Linked DNA regions of Homo sapiens: region 2 is linked to region 1. A link means that fine-mapping ties the variant in region 1 to the expression of a gene that starts in the linked region. Tissue or cell type: whole blood. Region 1 holds a variant in brackets; the other region holds the start of a gene. All regions are shown on one strand. Distances are from middle to middle.

Evidence for each region. PIP is the estimated chance that this variant, and not a neighbour inherited with it, causes the effect.
Region 2: it holds the start of SPARC, and the variant in region 1 is fine-mapped to the expression of SPARC in whole blood (INTERVAL, PIP 0.93).

The regions. Positions count from the first base shown.
Region 1 is chr5:152,465,822-152,473,928 of GRCh38, reverse strand. No RefSeq gene overlaps it. Among named protein-coding and RNA genes, the nearest start is that of NMUR2, 65 kb to the right of the region's middle. RefSeq lists enhancers at 566-735, 5,710-5,879, 6,930-7,099, 7,357-7,526, 8,064-8,107. The variant G/C (reference allele first, on the strand shown) is at 4,548.
Region 2 is chr5:151,683,655-151,691,761 of GRCh38, reverse strand. SPARC (secreted protein acidic and cysteine rich) reads left to right here and starts at 4,847. Exons shown (of 10, transcript NM_003118.4): 1 at 4,847-4,897. CLMAT3 (colorectal liver metastasis associated transcript 3) reads right to left here. Exons shown (of 5, transcript NR_109873.1): 4 at 5,811-5,933; 5 at 3,852-5,380. RefSeq lists enhancers at 4,079-4,906, 4,907-5,736, 6,565-7,394.

The DNA.
Region 1 (8,107 bases):
TTCTGGTGCACAGAATCCTGTTTGAGAATCATTATATTATGGTATTTCAAGGGAAAAAGGGTTTTCAGGGCTATAATCATCAAGCAGTTCTCATAAAAGATTTGCTTCATGTTCCACCTGACTTCGATTGATGATCAGTTAATAAGAAACAAGACTTGCAAAAGCAATGGTTTACTTAAGATTGCTATATATGTTTGCTATAAGAAATTATGTATTTGTTTACTTGAGACATAAAATGGTACAGAAAATTGAAGTCACTCATTTTGGCTGCAGATTAACGCAACAGCCCTGTGATACTGAACCTACTACTCTTTAAACTCACCAGACTCATGTGGATGAAACCATCCTGAGTGGATTCTCTTAGGCAGAAGGCATGCAACTGATTCACCCCTACAGCTGTGGAAATGTCTTTAAGTTGCCTACGGTAGACTCATAACACAATGCTAAGGCCCATTTCTCACAAACTCACTTTCTTCCCTTCTCCTCAAACTTTGCAGGTAGCAGCAAGATTTAATTCTCTCAAATTTTGCTCATCATGGGCATTGTGGTTGTCTCCTCACTGCACATTCTCCTTCCTTCAGCACATTTGAAGCTCTCCCCTGCCATCTATGAGCTCTGGAAGAAGCCTACCTCTTTGTATAACTTAGACATGAGCTAATCAGCAACTCAGGGGTAAACTAATGAGCATGTTCTCATCCCTGATCAACCAAAACCAGACCAATCAGAAGTAAGGCATGATTTGCTGGAACTTTGAAGAAAACAACTTCCTTGTTCTTACAGTCAGAGCTTAAGGAGCTGCCTTCTCTCCCTGTGTATGCATTAGGAAGCATGCGTCTCCAGGAATTGTTGGCAGTCCTGTTTCAACTATAAAAAAAAAGCTGGTACTGCATAGGGCTAAGGGGGAAAATGAAGGGATGTAGATGGATCCTTGATGGTATTATTGAAATGCTGAATCAAACTAGTTCTGAAATTCACTTAATCTCTAGACTTGCCAGTTACATGAGCCAATCAATCTCCTTTATTAATTCGAACTAAGTTTTTTTCTTATTTGTAGCCCTAACACATCTGAAATGACATTGATCACTCCATTAAGGAGGGCAATTTGACAATGTTGAGAAGCCCTGAAAGTGTATGTACCTTCTGAGCCAGCAGTTTCTCTAAGAATTTATCCTAAGGAAATAGTTGAACAGCTATAAAGATATTTATATGCACAAGCTGATTCATGATATTCTTTAGCACAATACTCTCAATGATCTAAATTTCTAGTGTGGCTAATTAAGTAAATTGGAATATAAAGATACTACTGAATACTATCCAGCCTTGGAAACTGATAAACAAGGCAGCTGCACATTTGTCAGTGAAAGCTGAATCAAATTAGTTGATTTGACTCTACCTCTAAAGGAGGAGTGTGGTAGGCTTTTTCCAGAGCTCATAGATGGCAGGGGAGTGGGGAAAAAAAAACAGGTAATAATGGGCTTTATTAATCCATTTTTATTAAAAAAAAGTACAATAATGATGCTAATGCCTTTTTGAGCTTTAAGTATCAAGAGCTTTGCAAACATTATTGCAGAACTTCTCAGTCCTCCTGGCTGCATCATAGTGACCTAGATAAATCACTAAAAACAACAACAGAAATAAACCTGCCAAGCCAAGGCAGCACAATTACATCAGGCTCTCTGGGGAGGTGGGATGCAAATATTGGAATTTTTCAAAGATCTTGGATGATTCTAATGTGCAGTGAGGATTGAAAATCATGGTATTTTCTCTTTTATCCTCAGAACAATACTGTGTTATTTGTATCATCACCTTCCTTGTATGGATGAACAAGTCTCAACAAGGTTAAATAACTTGCCTCCTATAACATAACAGAGCCTTGACTCTACCCAGGGCTGTCTGACCTTAAAAACCATGATCTTGACAATGACATCAAATTGTCTTTTAGTAAACTAGAGTGATTATGCAAGGAAACTGGGTGCAAAGCAAAAGGAAAAGACCAGAAGATTTCCAAAAACATAGTCGAGTCTCCAAGTGGTAGAATTACAAATACTTTGTAATTTATTTGTTTACAAATATACATGCTGTTTTAGCTGATCAATATGCCTTTGTGTTGTAAATATTTGCACACGTGTGTATGTTGTATATACACATTATGTCATGATTACTGCTCTGTTGCATCTCACTTCTTCAAAACCTCAGCTATGCCTTTGCAGCACATCCACTGTGCTGCCATCCAGAACACCACCCCAACTTCTCTGGAGATAATCATGCTATTGCATAATGGGCTTATTCAAGAAGTTCAGGTAGCTCACCCGCTCCCACCCCACTTGGCTCCAGACTCCTCCCTACTTTAACAGAGCAATTCCATCTTCCATGCTATTTCTGAATATCAAACTGCCCATATTCCCAGTTTATCTTAAAACTCTAGCTCTGAGTTCAAAGGTAACATTTCAACATATTAGAAATAAGCATCAAAAATCACAGCCACCCAAGGATACTGAAGCTTACAAATGAACTGAAATTAACAAAAAATCATATGTGAATCACAAGCTAGCTTAAAAACTTAAAATACACCTATTTGAAATGTTAATATAGTCAAACAATTTATTCTGACATCATTTAAAAACAAAAGTTTTACTGAACTTTCGAAAAGTTGATTTAGCAAAATTGTGTTTTAGGTGAATATAGTTTCAGACAATCCCTCCACTGCAATTTCATCCTGGTCTGCTGAGTAAATATAGAATGTGCTTTCTTAAGGAGATGAACACTCAGTTGAAACAGAGATGCACTATTTTCTGATAATGTAGTTCTCAGAGTGCTTGTTTTGACTGTCAACACTACCACAACCACATATATTGTCCTTAAAATTTTTCTCATCTGTATTACTCAAGAAGCCCATTTTTTATAAATACAGACCTGTGAATTTGGCTCACAGGGTAGAAAAATTCACAGAGCAAAGCTTACTACTAGAAAAAGAACTCCAGGACTCAGGTCCCAGACCCTCAATCCAGGACAGTAGATGAATTAATTTTCTACAGCTGCTGCAACAAATTGCCATCGACTTAGTGGCTTTCACACACACACACACACACACACACACACGTATTATAGTTCTGAAGGTCAGAAGTCTGATAGGGGTCTCACTAAGCTGTGTCTCTTTCTGGAAGCTCTAGGAAAGAATCTTATTTCTTGCTTTTTGCAGCTTCTAGGAACTTCTGGCATTGCTTGGCTTCTGGCCCCTTCCTCCATCTTTAACCAAAGCCAGAGACATGGAGCTAAGTCCCTCCCATGCTGCAGTCTCTCTGGTTCTCTCTTCCATAGTCACATCTCCCTCTGACCCCAGGTAGGAAAGGTTTTCTGTAACACTTGGAAGAACTCATGTGATTAGATTGAGCTCACTCAGAAAATCCAGGGTCATCTTCCCATCTCAGGTCCTTAATTTAATTGTAGCTGCAAAATTTCTTTTGTCATGTAAGGCAACATATTCACAACTTCTGAGAATCAGGATGTGGGCATCTTTGTGGGGAGGCACTAGTCTGCCTGTCACAGTAAGTGTCAGTATGATTTTCTGTCCTAGCACAGCTGAGAGATAGGACATTCTCGTTAACAGCAACTTGCCAAGAAAATGACTCCCAGGCATAGAAATGCTCACCCAACGAAGTCCATAAGAATGGGGGTAGAAGTGAGAAAGAAAAACCATTTTACAAAGCGATTTCTTTAATCACTGATGCAGTCTATTTTAGAAATAGTATAAACCCTTAACACTGTAACTATACCAGCATTTTTTCTTGCATATTCTCATATAATACTTCTATAAATTATACGCAAGGGACACGTTTTACTGGTACAGATACACAAGAAAGCAAGATTAGGAGTATTTCTATAGAAAAAATATATGAATTTTCATGTAGGAGCTCAGCAAATGAGAATTTACAGGTTGTACTTTCATATACTATTTATTTCCGATCTTGTAGGAAATCTGAACTTTACTGGCAAGAAAATGCATGTCCTTAAATGGGTAAAAAATAACTGGTAACTCAAATTCCTGAGCGCAAAAAAGTCGAGCCTCTAAGTCAAATAGTCCTTTCCATTAGTAAGTTGCTCAAGGCAATGCCACAGCCCTAAATCAAGAGATCTGGCAATGCCTAACCACAGGTGAAAACCTTTTATCTCTGACATCTTCTCTTTGCATAGCCCTTCGACACAAAGACCCTTGGCCGGCACTGACCACCCTGACAGAGAAGTGGCATTTACCTTCAATGCCCTGAGCTGTCCTTCCTTTTCCCTCCCTGCAAATATCCAATCCTTCCACCCTCTCTCCACACTTCTTTAAAAGATAAAGAACTGCACTCTTTGTCTTTACTGAATAAACATTGTATTGTAAGCCAGGCCCTCAACTAGCTGGTTTGTTCCTCATAGACCCTGTAGCCGAAATGTGGATGGCTCTCATTAGAAGTCGAGGAATGTGTAGCCTCTGTACACACTACCTCTTCGTGTACACACTACCTCTTCATGCACAGATAAACGAGAAACAGCTAAAAAGTTACCTA[G/C]TTAGACCTTTTCATAAGTTTTGATTAAAATATACAAATATTATTTTAAGGCATTTAGATCAAATTTTCATGTGCATGTTTTAGCCAAGTTTTAAGGAATAAAAAAGAAAGGTTGATATCAGTCTCTTCATTTAGTCTATTTAATCTTTATATTTATTCCTATGGCTACATAGAACCACTCTAGTTTTAACTCCAGGGTGCTTTCAATACAGTGTACTCTCCCTAGCATTAGTTTTATTCCTGGGCACAATTTCTAAGGGGCAAATTGATTGCTGTTTCTGGTACATCATAGAAAAAAGGTCACAGCAAGCTACCATCTTCATTGGCAAGCATTAAGTTAAATTGTTAATTTGCCCCATCCAGAACACTTGTACAGAGTTTAGTTGGAAATGAAAGCTTCTGATTTTGGATCTTGATCTTTGTCAATAATCTTTCAGTCTTTTTTGCTATTTCCTCTGTTCCTAAGCCAAACAAACAAACAAACAAACAAAAAACCCCAAACCAAAGACAAATAAAAAAACTACAAAGCCATTGGGCTAGGGAGTGCCTGACTTACAAGTTAAATGTTTCTTGGATTAATTTAGTAGTTATTAAAGTGGAGTAGCTCTTCATTTCCCTTTGACTGTATCACTTAATGAGAATTTGTTCAGTAAAATAAATCTTTCCAGGGTTCAGGGAGCAGACATGTCCACAGTTATCCTCCCCAAAAACCTGCATCTAGGTTCTTCAGGGACTTTATCTTTTTGCTCTTATTAGCACAACACGCAAAAATAATGTTTTTATCTAATAATATAGGTGTGTAGCTTAAAAGGCAAACTGTATGACAACAGCACCAACACCAGTTGCCTTCTGCTTGACTATGCCACATAATGAATTCCCACTCAAGATAGCAATGGCCTAGGTGACTTAATTCTCCAAACAAATGAATTCCTTGATCACTCATCAAAAGGTAGAGGGAAAAGGTATTTTAATGTGCTCCATCAAGTCAGGGTGAGGGAACTCAGGAAACTTCTGAGCAAAGTTTTCTTGCTAATAAAGATATAATTCCCACAGAAGAAATCTTTTTGGTGACACAGTCTGGACCATATTTATTAACCCTGTTTCTAACATTACCCCTGCTGTCTGCCTGTCCCCCTCACCCACTTTTTATTTTTTGAGATGAGGTCTCACTCTATCACCCAGGCTGGAGTGCAGTGGTGCAATCATGACACTCTGCAGCCTTGACCTCCCATGCTCAGGTGATTCACCCACCTCAGCTCCCTGAGTAGCTGGGACTATAGACACATGCCACCTTGCCTGGCTTATTTTATTTTGTTGGTAAAGACCGGGTTTTGCCACATTGCCCAGGCTGGTCTTGAACTCCTGGACTCAAGTGATTCGACCATCTCAGCCTCCCAAAGTGCTGGGATTGTAGGCACCATGGCTTATCATGGGCCATCACCCACTTTTTAAAACTGTTTCTGTGGAACATCTGACTATGCATACATCTCTTCGGATGGTGGTTTGCAGGTAATAAAGTTTCAAGTTTATGGAAGCAAATGTATCTTTGTACTTATTCATTTACAATCAACCTCTCACACCAACTCAAAAAAGGAAGGCCCTTTCTTATCTCTCCTGCAAGAAGGAGTTAAAGAAGTATCTTCTGCTTTCCCCCTTTACTTCACGAGAATAGAGACAGAAGAGTCAGCCCTGGCTATCACTTATTTCCATAAGTCACTTCTGCCCATTTGCTAGTCATAACGCAGTTCTTCTTGGAATACAGATACAGTGTTGTCTCTCCAACTTCTATATTGTCTCATGCAGATTTGCAAGAATATTTTCAATTGAGGATTCATAATGCATTCAGGTCACAGTCATCACAATCTTTCCCCCTGCAACAGCTTGCTTTATAGTTTTCCAATCTTCTCTGCAAGTGTATGAGTTGTTACCTCTTGAGTATTCATCTTTAAGATATTTCCTTCTCTTGTCATGTCCTTCCTTCACGGACACTCTAAGTCTTGCCTATTTCTTTTTAATCCCCCTCGGCCTCCTTGTCATTGAGAAAATACTGGCTAGAATGCCAGGCCCCTCTTTCTCTTCCTCTCCCCCAGGTCTGTCTCAAATGTTTCATAAAATTTTGGTCCACAACCACCTCAGATTATGCTACAGAGATGGCCAGGCCTTCTGCCAACCCATAGCCCATTTGCTTCAACAATTTTTTGGTTCAAAAGTGAAAATTTTCTATAGAGTCAGCAAGAACTTAGTTTCCTTCATACAGCCAAGATGGATGAGTTGAACCTGAACTCAGGGTGCATTTTCACTCAAATCTCTGTTGGCATCAAGCTCCTTGGCAATTTTTTCCATTATCACAGTCAAAATAAATGAGCATCTTTTAAATTCTAGGTCTTGCAATTTGTAGGGGAATTAGGTAAGAATCGTCTCCATTCAGGAGATATCAGAACAGTCACAGTTGGACCCAACATAAGACGACTTCTTGTTTTCTTATCACTTAGTTTCTACTCATAACTGAAAGGCAGCCATTTGAACTTACAGCATCCATGATACCCCCAGCTAATACCTTCCTCTTTCCCAGTCCTCTATGAATTGTAGGTTTAGTCTGATTTCAAGCTTCAGTGAAATGCCCAATCTTCCTGCCAGTGGAATCTGGGAGCAACGTACCATGGTCTGCCTGAAAGACCTACAGCTACAGCTTGATCTTCAAAACTCGGCTAACAAACTTTCAGGCAGCTACCTCAAGGAAAGGAGGGCTCCATCAAAGACAACATTAAGCCCTTGGATCATCCTTGCTTGCCACTGTCTTCCCAGCTTCCCAAAACTGACACCAGATGTCACTAGTCAAAACTTTAACATGTGTCAGCACAAGGCAAGATAATTTCAACTCCTCCAAGATTCCTGGCTATTTAGCAGGAATGGAAGACTTGGCTGACACTGCTAAGACCAACAGCTTCCAGAAACCAATAGAAATAAGTCCAATAATGCTATACTGTAGATACCTTTGCTTCCTTGGGTCCAGGTTCACCGGTGCTGCCTGTGCCCCTAGAGTGGAGTTGACATGTTTCCATTTTAGGGAGGTCAGACTCAGACAATCCCTGAGTACTTCACTCTCTCAGCAAAGTCCAAGAGAGGCCACTGGTTGCAGTAATCTCTGTGCTTATTAATAGCAGATGACCTTGTACTCTAGACCTGTTTGTGTGTCTGAAAGACACAGGCAATTAGAAAAATTTCTATAATTCTGTTCACTTAACACTTCCCACTGCAGATTGAGTCTGCACCTAGAGACCTTCAACACAATTCCTCATGCCTGCCAAAGGTGGTTGGGCTGTCTTGGTCAGACCTCAGCGTCAGAGAGCCCAGAACAAGATGGACCATTTCTTACCCACACACTAGGAGAGGACGCACCAGTCTCAGGCCAGGAGTTCTTGGTAGAGACCTCAGAATGCATCTTCCCCATCTCGACTGTAAGGGGAGAAGGTGGGCTGTGAGTTTCCAGGTCACTTACAGCAGGTGTGGCGAGGGCTGGGGATTGCTTCAGGGAAACACCATGCACCCTAATGGAATGA
Region 2 (8,107 bases), 780 kb after region 1:
GAGCCTTGTCTGTCCTATTTATTGCTATATCCCCAGTGCCTGATGCAAAGCACAATAAAGACTGAATGAACGAACGAGGTAGCTGATGTACTGGGGGTGTACGGAGCCTGGATGGCAGGCACATGTGGACATTTCCCAGGCAGTCCCTTGAGTTCTAAGGCTGTGGCTGGGGTGCTAGGTCAGGAGGGCAGGATCAGGGTAAAGTGAGAAGTGCCTAGAAGAGCATAGCTGGAGAGTGGTTGGAGAGGGCAGTGGGCAGGCAGCAGGGACCCCAATATACTGATGGATTGCTTTACAAGATGAAAAGCTGATTCAGCCTAATGTTGGATCAGCAACATTCTTGACTCGGGAGAGGGGTGTATGGTCTGAAGTCCACGTATGTCAGAGCTGGAGAGGAGTTGAGGGGGAAGTAGCGTGCAGTAGTCAAGCACTTGGGCTCTGGTGTCCCTTAAACCTGGATTTGAATCTCTGATTTACCATATACTTGGTGCATAAGCTTGAGCAAATTATTGATATGAACTTCATTTTCCACATTTATAAAATGGGAATAATAACAGTTCCAGATTTATAAGAGTTAAGTCAGACAATATATGCAAAGAGCTTAGCAGGTGCTTGGCACATAGTAGGTGTTTAATAAATGCTGGCTCTTATTACTACTATTCTGCTGTCCAACCTATTTTATAAATGAAAAGGTGTAGGGTCAGGTACAATGGCTCATGCTTGTAATACTAGCACATTGGGAGGCCAAGGCAGGAGGATTGCTTGAGGCCAGGAGTTCAAGACCAGCCTGGGCAACCTAGCAAGACCTTGCCTCTATTAACACAATTAAAAAGAAAGAAAGAAAAGGTGTAGTTCAGAGGGGCAGGGATGGGCCCAAAGTCACTCAGTGACTCAATAGCAGAGTGGGACTCACACCCAGGTCTATCACACCTGGCTGCGTTGTGCTTCTCTCCCTTCCTATAAAGCCCTTGGCAGGTGGCAGGAAGACCAGCCTTAGTCCTAGTGGTCTTCCTTTCTAGGTCAGAGTCATCCTTGCTTCAGAGGCTCCTGTTGCCCCAGGATGCTTTTTTTTTTTTTTTTTTTTTTTTTTGCCTTTTGAGGTGGAGTTTCACTCTTGTTGCCCAGGCTGGAGTGCAATGGTGCTATCTCAGCTCACTGCAACCTCCGCCTCCTGAGTTCAAGCAGTTCTGCCTCAGCTTCCCAAGTAGCTGGGATTACAGGCGTGAGCCACCAAGCCTGGCTAATTTTGTATTTTTAGTAGAGACGGGGTTTCACTATGTTGGTCAGCCTGGTCACCGAACTCCTGACCTCAGGTGATCCACCCACCTCTGCCTCCCAAAGTGTTGGGATTACAGGTGTGAGCCACTGCACCCAGCCATGTGCTCTTATCCTTAGATATAAAACCTACCAAGTTTTCTTTCTGGGAGTGATTCTGGCTCAGGGTGTCCCCACAGAGACCTGGAAGTGGCCCTCAGGAGGGATCTCTCTTCCAGAGCTTCAGCCCAGCCCCAACCAGACTTCCACTTCCTGAACTGAAAGCCACATGGGAACACCAGCCAAAAACTGGGAAGAGTTCCACTGGTTCATCCTCATCAGAATCATCATTTTAGTTTATGAATAAAAATACAAAGCTTCTGCTAATTTTAGTCCCATAATGCCTGGGAGCTATAGCAACCAATCCTATAAAAATATACATCTGTCCGGATGGCAAAACAGATATGTGGAGAGTCCACCAGCACCCTGTATTCAGCAGCCAAAAGCACTTGGCTTTTGAACCAGGGTGAGAGGCCTTGGGGGGTCTTTATTTATTTATTTAGAGACGGAGTCTTGCTCTGTCTCCAAGGCTAGAGTGCAATGGTGCCATCTCGGCTCACTGCAACCTCCGCCTCTTGGGTTCAAGCGATTCTCCTGCCTCAGCCTCCCATGTAGCTGGGATTACAGGCACGTGCCATGATGCCCAACTAATTTCTTTTGTATTTCTAGTAGAGACAGGGTTTTGCCATGTTGGCCAGCCTGGTGTCGAACTCCTGACCGCAGGTGATCTACCTGCCTCAGCCTCCCAAAGGGCTGGAATTACAGGAGTGAGCCACCATGCCTGGCCTTATTATTATTATTATTATTTTATTATTATTACAGACAGCATCTTGCTCTGTCACCGAGGCTAGTCTCAGGCTTCTGGCCTTAAGCAATCCTCCTGCTTCAGCCTCAGAGTAGCTGGGACTCCAGGAACATACTACTGCACCCGGCCCTTGGGGGTCATTTGGAGAAGACTCCTTCTTGGGTGTTTGTGGATTTTTCTGCAGAGAAAGTTCATTGCTTCCTTTAGGTTCTCAAAAGGACCAAACACCCTAACTTTTATATTCCACTTTAGTGGTTTGAGGGTCTCTTGGGTGTGGGGCAGTGTTCCAGGCTGGAACCCTAGTAAAAGACAACCCTCTCTTTTTTCAGATGGGCAAGTCGGAAGTTCATATATTTATTGAATAAAATATTGCAAGCCAGCTTTGTGTGGGGCACTGGTCAACATGCTGGGAACAAAGCAGTAAACAGACATGTGAAGTCCCTGCTCTCACCAAGCTTCTGTCTAGTTGGGGAAACAAATGGTTTCTGAGAATGACAGGTGATGGGGAGGAAATAAAACAGTGTAAGGCGATGAACTGTGCCTGTGAGAGAGGCAAGTAGATTGAGTGGCCCTAAGGAGGTGACATTAGAATAGGCACAGGAAAATCAGGTGGAAGAGTGTCTCTGGCAGAGGTAAGAGCAAATGCAAAGATACTGGGCATGGTGGCTCAGACTTGTAATCCCAACACTTAGAGAGGCCAAGGCGGGCGGATCACTTGTGGTCAGGAGTTCGAGACCAGTCTGGCCAACATGGTGAAACCCTGTCTCTACTAAAAATACAAAAATTAGCCTGGTGTGGTGGTGCATGCCTGTAATCCCAGCTTCTTGAGAGGCTGAGGCAGCAGAATCACTTGAACCCAGGAGGTGGAGGTTGCAGTGAGTTGAGATTGCGCCACAGCCCTCCAGCCTGGGCAACAAAGTGAGAGTCTGTCTCAAAAAAAAAAAAAAAATCCTGGGGTGGGAGAAGCTTTGGGGTAGTTGAAGGACTGGAAGGAAGTTGGCATGGCTGGAGCAGCGTGGGCACAGAGGACAGTGGTAGGAGGAGAGAATGGCAAGAGAGACAGGGGCCACAGCGGATGGAAGTGTATCATGAGGGTGTTCTCTGCCTTCTTCCTTTCCATGGTATTCAAACCCAACCCATGCTTCCAGGTCCACCTCTTTCAGGAATCCACCAATCTGAAGCCCTGGGATAAGCCTTAGAGTCTGTACCACTCATGTAAGTGGGTGTATGTGTAAGGCACAACCTTTCAGCAAGATCCAAAGCTCCTTGAATAGTGAGTTATCTCGATTGATTGTTCACAGTCACAGATTGAATTCCTTGTACTTTTTTTCCCTTCTCAGTTCTGCACTTAACTCGTCTAAAAAAATTAAAAAAGAATTTAAGAAACCACAAAGCTAAGCTGGGTGCGGTGGCTCACGCCTGTAATCCTAGCACTTTGGGAAGCCAAGGCATTCGGATTGCCCAAGCTCAGGAGTTCGAGACCAGCCTGGGCAACATGTTGAAACCCCATTTCTACTAAAAATACAATAAATTAGCTGGGTGTTGTGGCATGTGCGCCTGTAATCCCAGCTACTCTGGAGGCTGAGGCGCGATAATTGCTTGAACCCGGGAGGCAGAGGTTGCAGTGAGCCGAAATCATACCACTGCACTCCAGCCTGGGCGACAGAGTGAGTGAGACTCTGTCTCAAAACAAAACAAAACAAACAAACAAAAAAACCGGAAACCACAAAACTTTTTGAGGACAAGGACCAGGTATTTATTAATTCTCATACCTCCCAGAGTGTTAGGCACAAAATAAACATTCAACCAAGACCTGTTGCACTGAGCAGTTCATATATAACAGGAGTGACCCAAGTTGAAACGTAGAATCAGCCCTCTCATACCACTTTTTGCCAGGTGATCATAGGCAAGTTACTTAGCATCTATGTTTCCTTATTATTAAAATGGTCATAATTACAATGCCTAAGATAAGGGGTTGCTGTGAAGATTATTAAATCCTCAGTAAACTTTGGCTATTGTTACTCCTATGATTATCATCAATATCATCAATTACCTTATCTGTTCAATACTGGTGGCACAGGTCCACCAGCTAGATGTCTAATCCCTTATGTGTCTATTAGTGGTACAAGTGGAGTTTGAGTGGGATTTTTTTTTTTAAGACCAGTTCCAAATCATCAAGGATGATACCACTAGTAGCAGCTTGTCTTGTCTGTACAGTGGTAAGTCCTGGCCTTGCCTTTGTGGCAAATACAACCCCCTTGAATTGCTTGGCCCTTCTCAGCATTGCCTAATATTAGGGAGGACTCCTGTAAAGCTCACTGGTTAGAAGATCAAGACACTTGGGCCTGGTTCTGCCCCTGGGGGCCATTGGGTAATTCCTTGCAGTCTCCAGGCCTCACTTGCCCTCTGAACAAGAAAGAGGCTGTTCTGGGTCATCCCTCCAGGCCTGTCCAGCCCTGGCACTCTGTGAGTCGGTTTAGGCAGCAGCCCCGGAACAGATGAGGCAGGCAGGGTTGGGACGTTTGGTCAGGACAGCCCACCGCAAAAAGAGGAGGAAAGAAATGAAAGACAGAGACAGCTTTGGCTATGGGAGAAGGAGGAGGCCGGGGGAAGGAGGAGACAGGAGGAGGAGGGACCACGGGGTGGAGGGGAGATAGACCCAGCCCAGAGCTCTGAGTGGTTTCCTGTTGCCTGTCTCTAAACCCCTCCACATTCCCGCGGTCCTTCAGACTGCCCGGAGAGCGCGCTCTGCCTGCCGCCTGCCTGCCTGCCACTGAGGTATGTGTGACCCCCGCCCAGCCTTTCCCTTCTATAGTTGCACCAACCCCGACACCCCCGTTCACGCCGTCAGCTCGTGTGCAAGGGAGGGAAGCTCTGCTGAGGATGCGCCTCTCCTCCCGGCTCCATCACGGCTCCCCTTAAGAGCATGGCCCTCGGTCCTGTCTGCCTGTTGCTTTTCAGAAGGTGGACTCACTGTGTAACTTTGTCTTCCCTTACAGGTTTACAGAAAATAATCTCACTATGTCTTCGGGGGAGCATTTTCTCACTCTCTGTTTTTCTCTGTGTCTGTCTCTGGTTTCAGAGGCTGCCTGCCTGTCCTCTTTGCTCCCTTTGCAAATGTGGCAGCCTCCTCCTTTCCTGGGAATCTGATCCCATCACAGCTGCCACAGGGACCTGGCCAGCAACCGGAGTCTGTCCTCCAGATCTCGGTCAGGGGTTCTGTTTTCCAAAAGGGACTTTGCACGAACAATCAGTTGATCTCTGAAAGGCAAAGGGGGAGGCTTCACCATTAATCCACACCTCTGGGAAGCCTTCTGTTTTCCTCTAATTCTCCTCACTCCCAAACACCACCTTCCGTCCCCCCAATACACAAATTTCAGCACCATTCTGCCTGAAATGGCACCATCACAACCTCAGTCTTGGGTTAGGTGTTGTTCCTGTCCTGAGTTCCTTGGGATGGTAAACACAGGCAGTAGCCCTTAGTTTATCTAGATCTGAAAACCCAGACATCAGATATCGTCAACCAAGACATGGGTGTAATGGGAGGTGGAGTGTGCTGGGGGAGATATTCTCAGAAGGGGGAAAGGGGGAAGGGAAGAGGGAGAGAATTCCAGGGTCCCCTTCCGTAATCCACCCAAGACTAGTGTCCAGCCTGTCAGGGTGTCAGTTCTTCTTCAGACAAATCCACTACCTTTCTTCGCCGCCACTGGCTCCGTGAACTGGCTGTCAAGTGGACTTCCTTAGGGAAAGGGACTCCAAGGACTCCAAGGGAAGGGGGGCACTGGGATGAGTTATGTCTTCCAGGATTCCCAGTCTGCCCAAAAGGGAACAGAGAGGCATGCATTTTCCTCAGGAAAGGACAGCATTTTTTTCATTAGAGAAAATGTTTTCTCTAGTAATGCTTTAGAGTTAAATTTCTATACGCCCCAAGTGCTGGTGGTTTAGTGAGAAGCAAAGCAGAAGTAGGACACAGGCTTCGGGCATGCATTTTATGTGTGATCTTAGGTAAGTGTCTCCCCTGGATTTAGTGCCCCATCTGTAATGAAAGAAGGCTGAAACTGAAGGCTCTTTGGGGTGCTTTGTGTCCTCTAAAATATTCAAAGGAAGATTTCTTAACCAGGGTCTATGGAGTGGTCTTTGAATGGGCCTCAAGCCATCTCTAAGCCCCTAAAAATTGTATGCACTGTGTGTGTGTGTGTGTGTGTGTGTGTGTGTGTGTGAGAGAGAGAGGGAGAGAGAGAGAGAGAGAGGATGAATATGGGTGGTCACAGCTTTCAGCTTTAAGATATTCTCAAATGGATTAGAGGGCATGACGTGGGGATGGAGTGAGGACTGGTAACAAATGTGTGTATTTGCTGGAGGATGAAGCCTTCTGAAAAGGGAGTGGTTGAGGAAAGAGAGAGTTAACTCTCAGCTATCAGCTGCCACATCGACATAGCCTAGAGCAAAGAGGGGGAGGGAGGAGAAGAAGGGGGTTGCCTGGAGAAGGAATCAACTTTTGAAACTTTCTCCAAGTCCCACCCACCAGAAGGCTCTTCTCTGCCTGACTCACTCTCCGAGGAATGCGAGTTGCCACGGTAACCTTTTTTTCAGGGTCTCTGCCTGCTGGCTGGAGGGGACCCTTGAAACCCTCTAAGAACATCAGTCTGAACGTACCCCACCCCCAAATTCAAGGCCTGCAGCAAATTCTAGGCCCTGCCCTTGTGATCTCTCAGGATTCCGGGGAAGCCTTGGGCCATGATAATCTCCTTGCAAGGGTGTTTGAAGACCTGGGTTTTAGCTCTGGCTGTGCCCTGAAGGTACCATTTGACCTTGAACTAATACTTCTTTCTGGGCCCCATTCCCTCTACAGTTAAAGAACAGTAACAGCAGCCACCTCTAGGGGGTAGATAGTGTGTAGAAGAAATGGGATAATGCACAGGGAAGCACTTTGCGAATTGTGGCATTCCCTCATAATGCAAAGGGTTTTAGAACTGATGGATTAAAGGCATCCAAAGACCTAGTGAAATCATTCTCAGCTTTTTTTTTTTTTTTTTTTCCTGGCAGCTCCATCATCTTGGGGTTTGTATAGAACTTTCCTTTACTAGAAGTACTGACAGGAAAAATTTTAAAATCATAATATTGTTTATCTTCATTTTGATTTGGGGAACTTCTTGTGTATTTCCCAAGACTGTTGTGCCCTCTATGTAGGAAAAGCATTGGCCAAGGGTGAAAAAAAAAAAAAAAAGTGTGTTCTAACTCCCAGTGCCTGACATTGGGAAAGACACTTCCTCTCTTGAGGCTGCAGTTTCCCAAACTGTTAAATAGAGTTTCTAAGCTAGATGATTTCCCAGGCACCCTTCTAACTCTGAAGTCCTATAAACCTAAATCCCAGATACCGCTTTTATTCAAAGGAATAGCTTGCCTGCATTTTTAACACCGCCTTACTGCACCCCCAGTTGAAAAGAAAACAAGAAAAGATGGGCTAGGGGATCTTGAGTTGCATAACCATCATGCTGTAATCCTTATCCATCTGTAGAGATTTGTCAATCAACAGTGTGGCTGGGGTTTGCTATTCATGAGAGCAGCTTTCCTTGCTGAAAACAAGCTATAAATAAGAAAGAATGGTGAAGGAAAGGAAAGAGCTGAGGATGTGAGGTAAACAGTAGAATATTTGGCTTTTGAAGTTGTTTATGTAGGTAGATAAATATGCAGAGATAAACAGGGACAGGTACAAACCCATAGGGATGAAGAGTATAAACATCGATTTCATCAACAGGCACCCACTGGCTCAGCTAAAAATAAGTGCCTCATTACAGGAGCAGACACAGAAAGTCATTCACTCACACACCTCTTCCTGGATGACAATGATTTACAGACAAGTTCCAGGAATATATCTCAATGAATGTGAAAATTCTGACCCTCGCCTATTACAGGCTGAAACAGACAGATGCTAAGTCAGGCTGTATGTAACTTACACAGACATGCCATCAGGTATACAAACACACA